Linked DNA regions of Homo sapiens: all the other regions are linked to region 2. Evidence: fine-mapped expression QTL. A gene starts in region 2. Each other region holds a variant in brackets. All regions are shown on one strand. Distances are between the middles of the regions.

What was found. PIP is the estimated chance that this variant, and not a neighbour inherited with it, causes the effect.
Region 1: its variant is the best candidate, but not a certain one, in a credible set for the expression of RNF24 in whole blood (INTERVAL, PIP 0.81).
Region 3: its variant is the best candidate, but not a certain one, in a credible set for the expression of RNF24 in whole blood (INTERVAL, PIP 0.86).

The regions. Positions count from the first base shown.
Region 1 is chr20:3,934,204-3,939,927 of GRCh38, forward strand. It overlaps RNF24 (ring finger protein 24), which reads right to left. Exons shown (of 6, transcript NM_001134337.3): 5 at 791-870. Among named protein-coding and RNA genes, the nearest start is that of MIR103B2, 20 kb to the left of the region's middle. RefSeq lists an enhancer at 2,057-2,206. The variant C/T (reference allele first, on the strand shown) is at 2,365.
Region 2 is chr20:4,012,811-4,018,534 of GRCh38, forward strand. It overlaps RNF24 (ring finger protein 24), which reads right to left and starts at 2,748. Exons shown (of 6, transcript NM_001134337.3): 1 at 2,627-2,748. RefSeq lists a silencer at 2,255-2,854 and enhancers at 2,738-3,670, 3,874-4,475.
Region 3 is chr20:4,076,148-4,081,871 of GRCh38, forward strand. No RefSeq gene overlaps it. Among named protein-coding and RNA genes, the nearest start is that of RNF24, 63 kb to the left of the region's middle. The variant G/A (reference allele first, on the strand shown) is at 2,363.

The sequences.
Region 1 (5,724 bases), 79 kb before region 2:
GCAGAAGGAGACACCACAGGGGGAAGATGTCAGTCCTATGCTCATGGCACGGCTGTTCTGCTGAACATCTCCATATCTGTCACCCAGACAACGTCTGCTGTATGGTCCAAGGAGCTCCCCTCCTAGGTGGTGAACGGATGTCACCCCCTGGAGAGAGGGAAGAGACAGAGAGAAGGAGTGGGGAGAGGCCAAGGGGTCAGCAATCCCCTCTTCCTTCCAGAGCCTCCCATCTTCCACGTGTGAAGCCACAGATAGTATGTGATACTCTCAGTTACCCATGACTTCTTACAAGAACAAAATACACTGAGCAGGGATGTGAGAAGTAGGAAAATAAATTTTTCTAACAGAAATACAAAACAAAAAATTATAAGAGGAAGAATATTAATATGTCTGCAGGAAGTGGGAGGAGAGTGCCCCACACTACCATTTATATCCAGACTTTATTTTGATTTTAAATAACTATGGTTTTGATTTAAATAAGTTTTTAGGAGATGAGGCTCTCAGTGGAAAGTTCCAGCTAAATAGCTGTTTATTGCTTGGGCTCCAAGTGTAGGCTCATTTTGGCTCTCTGCCCATAGTCCTGACGTGGTGGTCACGTTCCACCACTCTGCTGTCTCCTAATGTCACGCACACACACACACATCCCACCTGTAGGGTGCTGTCAGCTTTCTGCATTACAGACCAATCATGAAGCCATCAAGCTTGTCTGGCACTGCCCTAAAACCCAAAAGAAGTTGGTTGATGTGCCTCAAACTCGGGTCCCATTAAGTAATTCCATACCAATACTTACTTTCTGTGGAAGGCGTGCTTACATGGGCAAATCCCCAACTCATCTCGAGGCTTGAAGTCTTCTAGGCACACTGCACAGAGCTGAAAGACAAATGCACAAATGAAGCCAAGTGTCTGTTAAGTACCCTCCCAGGTACAAAGTAGAGTGCAGGCTCCTAAAGGCTCAACCGTTTGAAGGGACTCATGAGACTCTTATCTTAAAAAAAAAAGAAATGAATGAATAAATGACTGAAAAGAAACAGGCCAAAATAGATGAATGTCTCCTGCTCTTCCTGTCCCATATCTTCAAGGAGGTGGGCAGATGGGAGAAGACAGAAAGCAAGAGGCAGCTGCCTTTACTTCAGTGCATCAGAAGTGTGGGACCGAGGGAGGGTTACTCTCACATCTGCCAGCTTAGCCTGCTGTCCCTTTCCTGGTGTGCCGAAAGAGCTGAGGCTCTCTGGGTTCTCCACCTTGTCAGCAGCACAGCCTGGCTCCCAAGCACTCACTGAAAGGGACCGCTCAAGCCCTGGCAATCTTTTCTCCTGTTTTTATGCACAGCTTGCAGTAACATGCTATTTATAGTTCCTGGGGCCTCCCACTTTGGCACTGTCCTTCTGTCAGTGTCTCTGTCATATAAAAAGTTACTGAAGACTCAGTTAACTCATGAACATGTGCAGATGGGACCAGGACTGCTCTCAGCCAATGACTAGTCTCCATGGCTTGGAGAGAGGCCTTTGCCATCGTACCCAGGGGCTGGGTTCCAACACTTTCCTGGGCATTCACCAGGGCCCGTGGATACCATGTGTCACCACACTGACCCATTTTACCGATGAGGAAACAGAAGCTCAGGAAAATAATGTTGCTTGAGGCCATTTAATTGGAGAGTGGCCAGGCCTGGCTGGGACCCAGGTCTGTTGCACTGATGTGCTGTTGTGCCATTGCTTTCTCCTGCCCAGTGGTTGAACTCCTTTCTCCCTACTTGCTTCCCTGTCCATTCCCAAGGATCCTGGTTCAGGCCATCACCATTTCTAGCCTGGACTGTTGATGGCTTTGCTGTTACTAGTTTCTTAACCTATAACACGTAACCCAGTCTTCTTAGATTATGTAACATGATCCAGGCAGGACATGTGGCTCTTGGTGCCCAGTGAACCGTGCCATGTTGGTTTTTAAACATCCTTGCTGAGGTAGCTTTCAGGGCCTTGTGTGTATGACAGACAGGACCTTCACAGGAGGAGAATGGATAACTGTGCTCTGTTGGACTCAGCATCCCTACCAAGATGGCAGGGGAGCAGGGAGGAGAGCAGGACAGGTGGCTGGCCTTGGCTCAGACACACTAGCTGTGTGGCCTCTGCCCTCAGGATTCCTCACAGAGCTCTGTTCCTTCATCTGTACAATAAGGACATGGCCTGTCCCACCCTACACACGGCTGTCATCAGCTCAGCTTGGGGGGTAGGGTTAAGGACACAGTAAGGCAGTCTACCAATGCCAGCTGTTTTTATTGATGTCTACATTTTATAATGGAAGTACTGTTTGCAAGCCCATTTTTGTCCTCTGAAGGGAGGCTGAGAACAAGCTGTGGGTAAAGGTAAAAAT[C/T]CAGCAGTTTCAGCCTAGTGGTATCTTTTTGGGCCTCAGCTTCCCACCTGTAAAGAGGGAATGATGCTCCCATCTCCTAGACTGTGTGATTGGCCCTCTGGCCTTCAACAGCCAGTTTTCCTCTCAGCCCCGCCTTCCGACACAGGGTCAGGACTGTCCTCTGGAGATTTAGCACTGATCCTGTTGAAGCACAGGTTGGATGAGTTGCTTATTTTTATTCACTTATTTTTCCAGGATCCAAAATTAGATTAGTAGCCTTTCCAAACAGGAGTTTCTTTTTTTCTTTTTGAGATGGAGTCTTGCTCTGTCGCCAGGCTGGAGTGCAGTGGTGCGATCTCAGCTCACCGCAACCTCCGCCTCCTGGGTTCAAGTGAGTCTCCTGCCTCAGACTCCCGAATAGCTGGGACTACAGGTGCATGCCAACCATACCCGGCTAATTTTTTATATTTTTAGTAGAGACAGGGTTTCACCATGTTGGCCAAGATGCTCTCGATCTCTTGACCTTGTGATCCGCCTGACTCAGCCTCCCAAAGTGTTGGGATTACAGGTGTGAGCCACTGCGCCCAGCCCCAAAATGGAGTTACTATTAATGGTATAATGTGCTATTATGTTCTGAATAAACAGATCCTAAAACTATAGCCACCTGAGAAAAAACAAGACAAACTCTGACACGTTAAATGCTAAAGGTGACCAAAGTCAATGGCAATCACAAAAAGAGAAAAGCCTCAGATGACTTCCTAGAAGCTCCCTAAGAGCCAAACTCATTTTACAACTTTCCTTTACAGTTCATATTTTGCAAATAAACTTTTGTTTCCAGTATTCAATGAGATTGTTTCTCCAGTGTGACTTCCCATCACCATTAAAAAACTGAGATACAATTAATCTACTATAATATTCACTCCTTTAAGTAACAGTACAATTCAGCAGTTTTTAGGTATATATGTGCAGCCATCTTTACAATCTAATTCCAGAACATTTGCATCAAATGCCACCCACCCACCCCCCAAAACAAGCCCATATTCATAGGCAGTCATTCCCCATTCTCCCCTTTCCCCAATCTCTGGCAACCAACCACTAATCTACTTTCTTTATTGATGGATTTGTCTACTCGGGACATTTCATATAAATGGAACCATACAATATGTAATATTTCATGTTTGGCTTCTTTCCCTTAGCATAATGTCTTCAAGGTTCATCTATATTGTAACATATATCAGTACTTCACTCATTTTCATGGCTGAATAATATTCCACTGTATGTATGTACCGCATTTTGTTTACCCATTTATCTATTGATGGCCACCTGGGTTGTTTCTACCTTTTGGCTATTGTGGACAATACTGCTATAAACACTGGTGTACAAGTATCTGGCTGAGTCCTTGTTTACGTTCTTTTGGGTATGTATCAAGGAGTGGAATTGCTGGGTCATATGGTAACTCTATGTTTACCTTTTTGAGGAGCTACCAAACCGATTTCCAAAGCGGCTGCACCATTTTACGTTCCTACCAGCAGTACGTATGGGTTGTAATTTCTCCATATCATCACCAATACTTATTCTTGTCTTTTTTACTATAGTTATCATAATGGGTGTAAATGGGTCATTTCCTTAATGACTAATGATGCCGTGCTTATTGACCACCACATATCTTCTTTGGAGAAATGCCTATTAAGTCCTTTGTCAATTTATTAGTTGGTTTCTTTTTATTATTAAGTGGTAAGAGTTCTTTATATATTTTAGACTGAACTCCCTTATCAGATAGCCAACTAATTTTGACAAAGGTGCAAAAAGCATTTCAATGGCAGAAGGAAAGCCTTTTCAACAAATGATGTTAGAGCACTACACATTCATAGACACAAAAGACACACGCAGCCTAAGCAGAAACACAACCTAAGCACAACCAAAGCACAACCTAAGCAAAGAAACCAAAGGAAAAAATGGATAAACTGGACTTGATCAAATTAAAAAACTTTTGTTCTACAAAAGACCCTGTTAGGATGAAAAGACTGGGAGAAAATATTTGCAGACCTTTTTATTTTGCAGGCTTCTTATTACTGAGTTCTAAGAGTTCTTTATACATCTTAAATACAAGACCCTTATCAGATATAAAACTTGTGAATACTTTGTCCCTGTGGGTTGCCTTCACTTTCAAGATAATGTCCTTTGAAGCACAAAAGTTTTTAATTTTTTTTTTGAGACAGTCTTGCTCTGTCACCCAGGCTGGAGTGCACTGGTGCCATCATAGCTCACTGCAGCCTCAATCTCCTGATCTCAAGCAATCCTCCAGCTCCTCAAGCCTCAACCTCCCAAATAGCTGGGACTTACAGGCACACATCACGACACCCAACTAATTTTTTTTTTTGTAAGTAGAGATAAGGTCTCCTAGCTATGTTGCCCAGGCTGGTCTCAAACTCCTGAGCTCAAGCAATCTTCTCGTCTTGGCCTCCCAACGTGTTGGGATTACAGGAGTGAGCCTCCATGGCTGGCCTGATGAAGTTTAACTATTTTTTCTTAGCTTGCTTGTGCTTTAGATGTCATATCTAAGAATCCATTACCCAATCCACAGCTATGAAGATTTATACATCTATGTTTATTTCTCCTTTTTGTTTTTTAGAGACAGAGTCTTGCTATGTTGCCCAGGCTGGTCTCAAATTCCTGGACTCAAGGGAGCTTCCCCCTCAGCCCCCTGAGGAGCTGGGATTACAGGCATGTGTCATGGCACTGGGCTCACCTATGTTTATGTCTGAGAGTTTTATAATATTAGCTGATACATTTAGGTCTTTGATTAACTTTTGAGTAATCTTTGTATATAGTATGAGGTAGATGTCTAAATTTATTCTTTTGCATGTAGATATCCAGTTGTCCCAGCACCACTGATTGAAAAGACTATTCTTTTCCCACTGAATTGTCTTGGCACCCTTGTTGAAAATCAACTGACCATAAATGTTTGAATTTATTTTTGGACTTGCAGTTCTATTCCACTGATCTATATAGCTATCAATATACCTGTGTCACATGTATTAAAAACTGTAGCTTTGTATAGTAAGTTTTGAAATTGGAAAGTGTGAGTTCTCTAACTCTGTTCTTCTTTTTCAAGATTCTTTTGGCTATTCTGGATCCTTTACATTTCCATGGGAATTTCAGAATTCATCTGCTTGTCAATTTGTGCATAAAAGGGCAGATAGGATTTTGAAAAAGATGATTTGGTAAATACTTTGGATATTACTGCCAACTTACCAATATTACATTTTCTAACCAATGAACATGGGATGTCATCCCAATTATTTAGGTTTTATTATCTTTTCAACGTTTTATAGTTTTCAGCATATAAATCTGGGCTTCTTTTGTTAAATTTATTCCTAG
Region 2 (5,724 bases):
TAAACTTCCATGAAATTGCGATACTGTGCAAGCTTATTTCAGTGATAATTCCGGTTATGCTACTCTGTTTATCTAAGACTTCCCCTTACGGTTTGTTTTAAGGAGACTCCTAAAAAATGTCTTATGCAGTCAAGACAGGCAGTTTATAAATGTACTGGGTTACTTCAACATTAGTGACTTTAGTTAGTAAAGCTCTTGTTTTTTTTTTTCTGCTTCATTTTTCCTTCATAAAAGCCTTGTTTTAAATTAACTTATCTGAATTAAATTAATTGATATTAAGATTTTATTTAAATCATGCATTAAAACCAAAACATCCCCAATTGAAAAATCAACTTTCATTAATTTTTTTTTACTCTTACAAAAAAGAATTTGAACGTGGTAAGAATTTTACTAAGAATAATGTATCCTGAACTGACCATGGAAAATTTCCCCTTCAAATTAAAAGCAAATGTTTTAAACAGAGGGAATATACATAAACAGATGCTGTGGAAGACTGCTTAGTTTACATTTCATTTTCCACTGAAAACTACTAGGAATTAAAATACATGTGATTTTTAAAAATATTACAGAGAATCTTAAAGAAAACAGAACCCATACAATTATTCATATCATCCAATATAAGCGCCTCTTAATTTTTTAAAACCGCTATTTTGAATCCAAAGATCATAATAAAAATAGCTTTTTTTTCAGACGGAGTTTCGCTCTTGTTGCCCAGGCTGGAATGCAATGGCGCGATCTAGGCTCACTGCAACCTCCGCCTCCGGGAGTTCAAGCGATTCTCCTGCCTCAGCCTCCCGAGTAGCTGGAATTACAGGCGCTCGCCACCATGCCCGGCTAATTTTTTGTATTTTTTTAGTAGAGACAGGGTTTCACCATGTTGGCCAGGCTGGTCTCAAACTTCTGACCTCTGGTGATCCACCCACCTCGGCCCCCCAAAGTGCTGGGATTACAGGTGTGAGCCACCGCACCCGACCCATAATAAAAATACCTTGGAGGTGTGTTTCTTGTAAATGAGTGGCTAATTTCCCAACACCCTGTAAAAGTATATGGGTAAAAAGAAACTGAAAATCATCATGCAACCAGAGTTAACAACTATCTTGCAAAATTCATATCATTTGTTTTAAAACCAAAATAGCAAGGAAGAGCTGGTGTTATCCCAATAGCCTCTTTTTAATTGGTCTACAACAACTGCAACTCTTCATAACTTTACCAACACAACAAAGTCAGGCAGGCAGTCTGACAGAGTCAACGTTTGTGGGAACCTACAGCGCTTCCTTCTCTCTCTGGAGATGAGGACAATGAAAAAAGGTGTTCTGTTTTCCAGTAGTCCTGTAAGAGGAGCCATTGAGCTGGGCTGTACAACCAGACAACAGAACACAGGAAAATTCACATCAAAGCAAGGGCGCATGCCAGGGTAATATGCAATAAAACCCTCTGCCAAAGCATTAAGGGGAAAAAAAAGCAAGGAGGTAGAGAGAACCTGCTGGACTACCTTCTCATTAACACAGGGAGGCAGAAAGAAACAAAATCTGCCTGTATTCAGGAGCGGAGAAAACTGTGTCCTAGATATATTGGAGTATTCCTATAGACATGTTTATGAGCATTCGGACAAATTATCAATGAACTAAACCCAGAAAGCAGTGTCCTGTACGGTGGAGTATTCCTATGTAGACAGACATGAGAATCTTACCATTAACTAAGCCCAAAAAGGCAAAGTATTCTAGAAACACAGATATATGAGAATTTAGATGCACATTTCCAATGAATAAAACCCACTGGTTTTACAGTGAGAAAAAACTGTTTGAAATAACATCAGGTAAAGAATTGGGTAAAGGTGTGATGAAGTTATATCCCCTCCCCTTTTCCTCATACCCTTTTTGACAATCTCTGATTCTCTCATTTCATAGATGTCCCTTTCACTTGAATGCGCACACACACACACACACACACACACACACACACACACATCATTAGGTCTCCAGAAACAAAGGAGGGTCCTTAATTCTCCGGCCTGTGGAACCACACACGCCCCCTGCCCACAGATGGTGACTTTCATTAATGAGTAAGCCGAGGGAAGAGGTCTCCACCCCGACCACTGCCATGCACACTGTGACAACGGGGCACGAGACAAGCGCCACAAAGAAAGGGGAGGAGTGGACGGGGACCAGGAAAACACTGCCACGCCGCACCCCCCAAGGCGCGCGCCCACCGCCAACGCGGGGGCAGCGTCCTCGCCATCCTCCTCCTAGCCTCCCAGCTCATCCCAGCCGCCTCCCACGCCCGGGGACCCGATGCCAGGGCTTGGGCGAGCAGGACGTGCGGGGGCCCACGCACCTTCCCTCCGTGATCTCCAGGTGACAGCCCCGCTCCGCCCTTTGTGAGGGACTCACCCTCCAGTCCCGGGGCCGCGCCGGACCCTCCTCCGCGTCCCTCCTCAGCCTGGAGACACCGCCTCACCCCTGCACACCGCGCCCGGCCGGCCGAGGCGCCGGGAGAGTGTGTGTGTGTGGGAGGCTGGCGCGGGCCCGCGGTCTCCTCAGCATCCCGAACCCGGAGCGGCTCGGTCCCCCAAACCCCAGCCCGGGGGCGGCGGCCGCGGCGCTCCCGCCCTCGCTCGCTCACTTACTCGGGCGCGCCGGTGGCAGCGGCAGACGTGCGGGACCGTCAGCGCCCTGCGGCGGGCGGCAGGCTGCGGGCGGCGAGCGTCCGTCCGGACAGAGCGCGGCGGAGGTGGCGGCGGCTGACTGCGCCCGGCGGCCCCTCGCGAGGGGCGGGCCCGCCGGGGGAGGGGCGGGCGCCGCGCCTCTCATTCATGCAGCGGGGGCGGGGTGAGGGACCCGGATGCCCGGGCAGTTTCCCCACCCACCTCGGCGGAGGGCTCGGCGGCTTCAGAGTCTGCAGTGCGCAGGCGCGGCGCTCCCTGGCCAGGCCTGGTGCGGCCCTGGCCGCTGGCTCTGTTCCTGGTTAGAACTACGCCAGACAGGCCGGGCGAGGTGGCTCACGCCTGTAATCCCAGCACTTTGGGAGGCTGAGGCGGGCAGATCACGAGGTCAGGAGATCGAGACCATCTTGGCTAACGCGATGAAACCCCGTCTCTACTAAAAATACAAAAAATTAAATTAGCCGGGTGTGGTGGCGGGCGCCTGTAGTCCCAGCTACTTGGGAGGCTGAGGCAGGAGAATCGCCTGAACCTGGGAGGCGGAGCTTGCAGTGAGCCGAGATCGTGCCACTGCACACCAGCCTGGGCGACAGAGCGAGACTCTGTCTCAAAAAAAAAAAAAAAAAACAACTACTCCAGACAGACCTTCTCCATCGACCGTTTAGTATTTTTGCGTGCCCTACAAGCATTTTTAAAAGTGAAAGCATGGGGCCGGGCGCAGTGGCTCACGCCTGTAATCCCAACACTTTGGGAGGCCAAGGCGGGTGGATCACCTGAGGTCAGGAGTTCCAGACCAGCCTGACCAACATAGAGAAACTCTGTCTCTACTAAAAATACAAAATTAGCTGGGTGTGGTGGCTCATGCCTGTAATCCCAGCTACTCGGGAGGCTAAGGCAGGAAAATCTCTTGAACCCGGGGAGCGGAGGTTGCAGTGAGCCAAGATCGCACCATTGCACTCCAGCCTGGGTGACAGAGCAAGACTCCGTCTCACACACAAAAAAATGAAAGATTGGAATGCCACCCCTTTCCTAGCATGCAGATTGACAGTCCCCAGAGACACAAGAATGGTCACGTGGTGCCCATTGGTTTGATGGGGAGATGGTATGCACCGCACCCTCCTCCATCTGCCCCTCCTGCTGCAGCCTCTCAGCTGAGTGCTAGAACCTTGGTGATGGATGAGACCTAGACTCTGCCCAGATAGTGGAGAGAGGTGTGTGCAAGAAACAGTGCATTCCTTTATTTACATCCACTCCTCAACCTCCGGCTCCCATTCTACAGGGCAGGCAATAAATTGACCTCCGATTTTGGGAGGCTGAGCTCTTCCTGCAATACCAAGGCAAGGATCTGGGGAGTCCTCTCTTGTCTTTAGCAGGCAGTGTATTCTGCAGATACTCTCTTGTTCCCATCGCCTTGTGTCTGCCACTCCTGGGGTACGGAAGTTTCTGGAGAGGCTAGGAGCCTGCAGAGGGAATGGCTGTGAAGCTCCACAGCTGACTGTGTGTGCGCTGCAGCTCAGAGCTTGCAAAAATGATTGCCCCCTCTTCCTCAGTCTCCATGTGTCCCCCAGAAGTTCTCCTTCCTTCTCCTAATCTCTCAGGCCCCATCACATAAACCATAAACAGCTCAGTAGCTTAACTTTGGGAAGCAAAAGTCATCATGGCAAGCGCCTAGAGGCATGTTCCTTCTGCTTTGGCAAACCATTAACCACCAAGGCAGGGAGGAAGTAAAGAGGGAAACATTAGTGAATTTCTCAAGAAGTCACCTGCCACCCAATGGTCACAGTCCCCCAAAGTGAGAGAAGGGTGGAGGCATGTGCTAGGGAGACTGTGGCAAAAGGAAGGGAGTGGGAGACCCAGGCTTCCTCTAGAGCTGCCTGTGCCAGGGCTGTGCTGGGGGAACACTGCCCTCCTTGCTGTCAATCATAGCAGTTACCTGGAGGGTCTTTTCAACTTTGCTTTGCTCAAACCTCTCACTGTTCTAAATCAGCCCCCTCATCTCTCCCCTGGGCTGTTGCAGAAGTCTCAATCCATTCTCATGCAAATCGATTCTCATGGTATTCAAATCTGCCTGTGTTTCTGTCTTTTTCTTTTTCCCTGCCCCATCTGGCTCCTTGAGCCTTATTTTCCAGCCATTTACAGAACAGCACCATGGTGTTTCACCTCAGTAGTCACCAAGGTGACTGCTGTTTCCTGCTGTTCCCCTACTAGGAAAGCAATACTTACCTAGCATGCAAAAGTTGCTCTTTTCTCTGAAAATCCACAGATGCTTTTTAGGGCAGTGAAAATACTCTGTGTATGATACCATAATGGTGGATACCTGTCATGACACATTTGTCTAAATCCATAGAATGAATAATACCAGCAGCAAACTCTAATGTAAACATGGATTTTGGGTGATAATGATGTGCCAATGTAGGTCCAACAATAGTAATAAATGCTCCCGTGGGAGAATGTTTATAATGGGGGGGCTATGTATGTGTAGGGGGGAAGGGCTAGTTGGGAACTCTGCACATTCCTCTCACTTTTGTGGCAAACTTAAAACTGCTCTAAAAAAAAGTAAAGTATTTACAAAGTCATTTTTGATAAAGTATTTTTTTCTGCCCCCACTTATTGACAGACTTTCCTTGAGAATCCCCACCTGTGCCCTGTACCCACTTCCCTCTCAGCACTAGGCACCCTCCAAGGTCCCTGCTCATTTGCATATTTTCTTACCACACCAGCATGTGAGTCCTTCATCAGCAGGATCAGTATCTCCCAGGACCTAATATGTGACTGGCACATAGTGGGTCTGCTGTGGCTATTGGTGGAGGTGATGTTCCCTGGTGGGCTGGGGAGGCTCCACAGGAGAAGGAAAGGCTGAGCTCCTTTTCTTTCTTCTTCCTTATTTTGGCTTCCTTCCTCTGCCCTGCGTTTGGAAACCTGTTTTGTTTGTTTGTTTAGAAAGCTTGGCTAGTAATTCACTAGTCCAATCAGGCTGTAGGGTAGAGGATGGAGTGGCTCATTTCATGTCTTTTGTTCTTGAAAAAATTAGGGGTGAGTGGGAAAGAGAATGAGAGAATGAACGG
Region 3 (5,724 bases), 63 kb after region 2:
CTTATTGTAAAACATTTTGGTTGTTTCCATTCTGGTACTTGTGTGGCCATAGCCCTATTTCTCTGGGATAAATGCCCACAAGTGCATTGCTGGGCTGTATGGTCACTTTATGTTTAGTTTTTAAAGAAACTGCTCAACCATTATCCGGAGTGGCTCTATCATTTTATATTTTCACTAGTAATGGGTGAGAGATTCAGTTCCTTCACATCCTCTCAAGTATTCGATATGTTCACTATTTTTAATTTTTAGCTCTTCTAATAGGTGTGTAGGGATATATCATCATGGTCTTAATTTGCATTTTCCTAAAGACTAATGATGTCGAGGATCTTTTCATGTGCTTATTTGCCATTGTATAGCCTCTTCGATAAAATATCTCCTCATATCTCTTGCCTATTTTCTAATTAGATTATTTGGTTTTTTTTTAACTGTTGAGTTTCGAGAGTCTTTCTATATTCTGATACACATCCTTTGTCAGATACGTGGTCTGCAAATATTTTTTCCTAGGTGTAGCTTGTGTTTTTATCTTCTTAAGAGGGCCTTTTGTAGAGAAAAGTTTATTCATTTTGATGAATTCCAATTTATTGATTTCGATGTTGTGGGGACAAGAGAGGCTTTATTTTAAATGCTAATCCAGTGACTAACCACAAGTCCGGGAATGCCTCCAACATGTCTAGCTGATGTATTACTCTTTATGTGGAAACACCTAATGATTGTAAGTTTCCTCCAAAACAGCTCTTGATGCTGTTGCAGAAGTCATAGGCTGTGACACTCATAGCCAACTACACATTCCTTTCAGAGCACGTATACTTTTCCCCCAAGATGTAAGCCCCCTGCCTGGGGAGGTGTGGTGTAGAGATCTACCTGTCTTGTGGTGGCCCAAGACCAGACTTCTGTCTATAAGTTGCCCCTAATAAGCCACCTTATACTGACAAATGGGATTTGCCTGCCTCCTTCTTTGGTTTCTTGGCTTCTTTGGCATTTGAGGACTGCTTTGCATGTGCGGCCCTTTCATGGAACAGGTGTCATGTATAAGAACTCTTCACTAAGCCCTAGGTCCTGATGATTTTTATGTTTTCTTCTAAAAGTTTTATAGTTTTATGCTTTTTTTTTTTTTTTTTTTTTTTTTTTTGGTGAGACGGAGTCTCGCTCTGTCACCCAGGCTGGAGTGCAGTGGTGCGATCTTGGCTCACTGCAAGCTCCACCTCCCGGGTTCATGCCATTCTCCTGCCTCAGCCTCCCGAGTAGCTGGGACTACAGGTGCCCACCACCACGCCTGGCTAATGTTTTGTATTTTTTTTTTTAGTAGAGACCGGGTTTCACAGTGTTAGCCAGGATGGTTTCGATCTCCTGACCTCATGATCTGCCTGCCTCGGCCTCCTAAAGTGCTGGGATTACAGGCGTGAGCCACCGCGCCCAGCAGATATAATTCTTCTTTAGCCTATTGATATGATGAGTTACAGTGATTTATTTTTAATACTGAACAAGCCATTAATACCTGGAATAAGCCTCATCTGGTTATAATCTCTCTCTTTAATATGTTTATTATACATAATGTGTATATGTGTGTATTTTAGTATATTGCTGAATTCTATTAGTTAATATTTTGTTAAGGACATTTTCATCTGTATTCATTGGGGATATTGGACTATGGTTTTCTTTTTTGTACTTTGCCTTGTTTTGGTATTAGAGTAATATTGGCTACATAAAATGAATTAGGAAACATGCTTTCTTCTTCTATTTTCTGGAAGAGATTGTGTAGAACTGGTGTTAATTTTTCTTTAAACATTTGGTATAATTCGCCAGTGAAATCATCAGGGTTGAAGATTTCTTCTTTCATTTTAATAGTCTTAAAAATTTGAATTCAATTTTCCTTAGAGTGAAAGGGCTACTCAAATTATTCACTTCATATTGGGCAAATTGTGCTTGTTTGCGGTTGTTGAGGAATTTGTCAATTTCATTGAAGTTGTTAAATGTATGTGTGTAGCGTTGGTAGTATTATCTTATTCTTTTTTTAATGTCTTTGGGGTGTTCAGTGATAACAACAGATACCTGTTTCTTTCCTGAAATTCGTAACTTGTGTTTTCTTTCTTTTTTCTTTTGTCAGTCTTGCTAGAGGTTTGTCCATCTTATTGATCTTGTCAAGGAATCAACTTTTTGTTTTATTGCTTTTCTATATTGTTTTCTGTTTTTACTTTCATTGATTTCTGCTCTTATTATTTCCTGATTTCTGCTGAATTTGGGTTTATTTTGCTCTTCTTTTTCTAGTTTCTTGAGATGGGAGATTAGATTATTGATTTGAGTTTTTTCCTCATTTCTAATGTAAACATTTAGTTTCACAAATTCCCCCTTAACACTGTTTTAA[G/A]TGTGTCCCACACATTTTGGTACGTCGTATTTTCATTTTCATTTAGTTCACTGTATTTTTTTTAATTTCCCATGAGCCTCCTCTTTAACCCAAGGATTAAAGTGTATTGTTTTATTTCCAAGTGTTTGGAGATTTTCCTGTTACCTTTCTGTTATTTGTTCCATGTGGTCAGAAAACACAGTATGATTCAATTCTTCTACATTTGTTGAGGTGTATTTTATGGTCCAGGATATGGCCTATCTTGATATATGTTCCCTGGGTGCTTGAAAAGAATGTGGTTTCTGCTATTTTTGGGTGGAGTGTTCTATAAATGTCAGCTGGATTCTGTTGTTTGATGGTATTGTTGGTGTCTTCTATATCTTTGCTGATTTTCTGTCTGGTTGCTCTATCAATTGCTGAGAGAAAAATGAATTCTCCAACTACAATAATGCATTTGTCTATTTCTCTTTTCAATTTGATCAAGTTTGGCTTCACATATGTTGCAGCTCTGTTGTTTTGTGCATACACATTTAGGATTGCTATGCCTTCTTGGTGGATTGACCATTTTATCATTGTAGAATGGCCTTGGTAATTTTCTTTGCTCTGAAGTCGCGTTGTCTGACATCAATATAGCCACTCTCGCTTTCTTTTGATTTATGTTTGTGGTGTAAAACTGATCTTTTTAATTTTTAAATTTAAATTTAAATTTTTATTTAGAGACAGGGTCTCACTCTGTCACCCAAGCTAGAGTGCAGTGGCACAATCATAGCTCCCTGCAGCATCAAACTCCTGGGCTCAAGTGATCCTCCTGCCTCAGCCTCCCAAATGGCCAGGATTACAGGTGTGAGCCACCACGCCTAGCCATCTTTTAACTTTCAATTTACCTATATTGTTACATTTGAAATGAGTTCTGTGTAGATAGCATATAGTTGGGTCATGTTTTAAATCCTCTCTGTCAATCTCTGTATTTTAATTGGTATGCTTGGGTAAATTTATATTTAATGGAATTATTTATATGTTAGGAATTAAGTCAGCCATTAAATTTTTAAGTTTTCTATTGTTCTCTTTGTTTTTTCTTTCCTGCCTTTCTACGGGACACTTGAATGTTTTCATTCATTTTGATTTATCGATAGTGTTTGTGAGTGTATATCTCTTGTATACCCTTTTCAGTAGTTGTTCTAGATATATAGCTATCTATATTTATATCTGTCTATTCAAATATCTATCTATATTCGTATCTCTGTCTCTGTATGTATTCGATTGTGGTCAGAGAACACACTCTATGTGATTTCAAATCTTTCAAGTCACACTATCTATGAGTATTAACATTTAACTAGTTCAAGTGAAGTGTAAAACCTACCTTCCTAACATCGCATTACTTTCTTCCATTTCTAATATAATTGTCTTAAATATTTATATTTGTTGAGAACCACATCATACGGTGTTATAATTTTTGCTTTATTTATTTATTTATTTTTTGAGATAGAGTCTTGCCCTGTCACCCAGTCTGGGGTGCAATGGTGCGATCTCACGATCTCGGCTCACTGCAACCTTCGCCTCCCGGGTTCAAGTGATTCTTCTCCCTCAGCCTCCCGAGTAGCTGGGATTACAGGTGCATGCCACCATGCCCAGCTAATTTTTTATATCTTTAGTAGAAATGGGGTTTCACCATGTTGGCCAGGCTGGTCTCAAACTCCCGACCTCGTGGTCCGCCTGCCTTGGCCTCCCAAAATGCTGGGATTATAGGCATTAGTTACCACGCCCGGCCTTTTTTTTTTTTTTTTTGAGACGAAGTCTCACTCTTGTCGCCCAGGCTGGAGAGCAATGGTGCGATCTCGGCTCACTGCAACCTCTGCCTCCCGGGTTCAAGTGATTCTCCTGCCTCAGCCTCCCAGGTAGCTGGGATTACAGGTGTGCACCACTACGCCCAACTCATTTTTGTAATTTTAGTAGAGACGGGGTTTCACCATGTTGGCCAGGATGGTCTTGAAGTCCTGACCTCAGGTGATCCGCCCGCGTTGGCATCCCAAAGTACATTTTTTACTTTAACTGTCAAACATAATTTAGAAAAATCAAGAGGCTCATGCCTGTAATCCCAACACTGAGAGGCCGAGGCAGGAGGACTGCTTGAGCCTAAGAGTTCAAGACCAGTCTGGGTAATATAGTGAGACCCCATCACTGTATCTAAAGAAGAGGCCTGGCACGGTGGCTCATGCCTGTAATCCCAGCACTTTGGGAGGCCGAGGCAGGTGGATCATGAGGTCAAGAGATCGAGACCATGCTGGCCAACGTGGTGAAATCCCGACTCTACTAAAAATACAAAAATTAGCTGGGCCTGGTGGCGCGTGCCTGTAGTCCCAGCTACTTGGGAGGCTGAGGCAGGAGAATCGCTCGAACTCGGGAGGCCAAGATCACGCCATTGCACTTCAGCCTGGCGACAGGGCAAGACTCCATCTAAAAAAAAAAAAAAAAAAGAAAGGAAGAAAGAAAGAAAGAAAACTCAAGAGGATAAGGAAAGTCTGTTGTATTTATCCATATTTTTGTGCTTTTCATTGTTCTTTCTTCTTTACTGTTGTTCTAAGATCCTTCATTCAGCCAGGTGTGGTGGCTCACGCCTGTAATCCCAGCACTTTGGGAGGTCGAGGCTGGTGGATCATGAGGTCAGGAGTTCGAGCCCAGCCTTGCCAATATGGTGAAATCCCGTCTCTACTAAAAATACAAAAAATTTAGCCGGGCATGGTGGCGTGTGCCTGTAGTCCCAGCTACTCAGGAGGCTGAGACAGAAGAATCGCTTGAATCTGGGAGGCAGATGTTGCAGTGAGCTGAGATTGCACCACTGCACTCCAGCCTGGTGACAGAACGAGACTCTGTCTCAACAAAAAAAAAAAAAAAGAAAAAAGAAAAATTCCTTTGTTCATCATTTCCTTTCTGTTTAGACAACTTCTTTTTAGTCATTCCTAAATGGCAGGTGCTGACAACAAATTCTCCTGGTTCTCCTAATCTGAGAACATCTGGATTCCCGTCATTCTTGAATAATCTTTTTACTGGATATAGAATTCTGGGTTGAGAGTTCCTTTTTTTCTTTTCAGCACTAGAAAAGAAATGTGCCACTCTCTTCTGGACTTTAGGGTTTCTGATAAGAAATCTGACGTCTTTCCAATTATTTTTCTCCTGTAGGCAATGCGTCATTTCTCTCTGCTTTCAAGACTTTTTTTTTTTTTTTTGGCTTTAGTTTTTAGAAGTTTGGCCAAGATATGTTTTGATTTGAACTTCTTGGGGTTTATCCTGTTTGAGTTTCACTTAGCTTCCTGAATCTGTCGGTTCATGTCTTTTGTCAAATTTGGGACATTTTTAGCCATTATTTCTTCAAATACTTTTTCAAA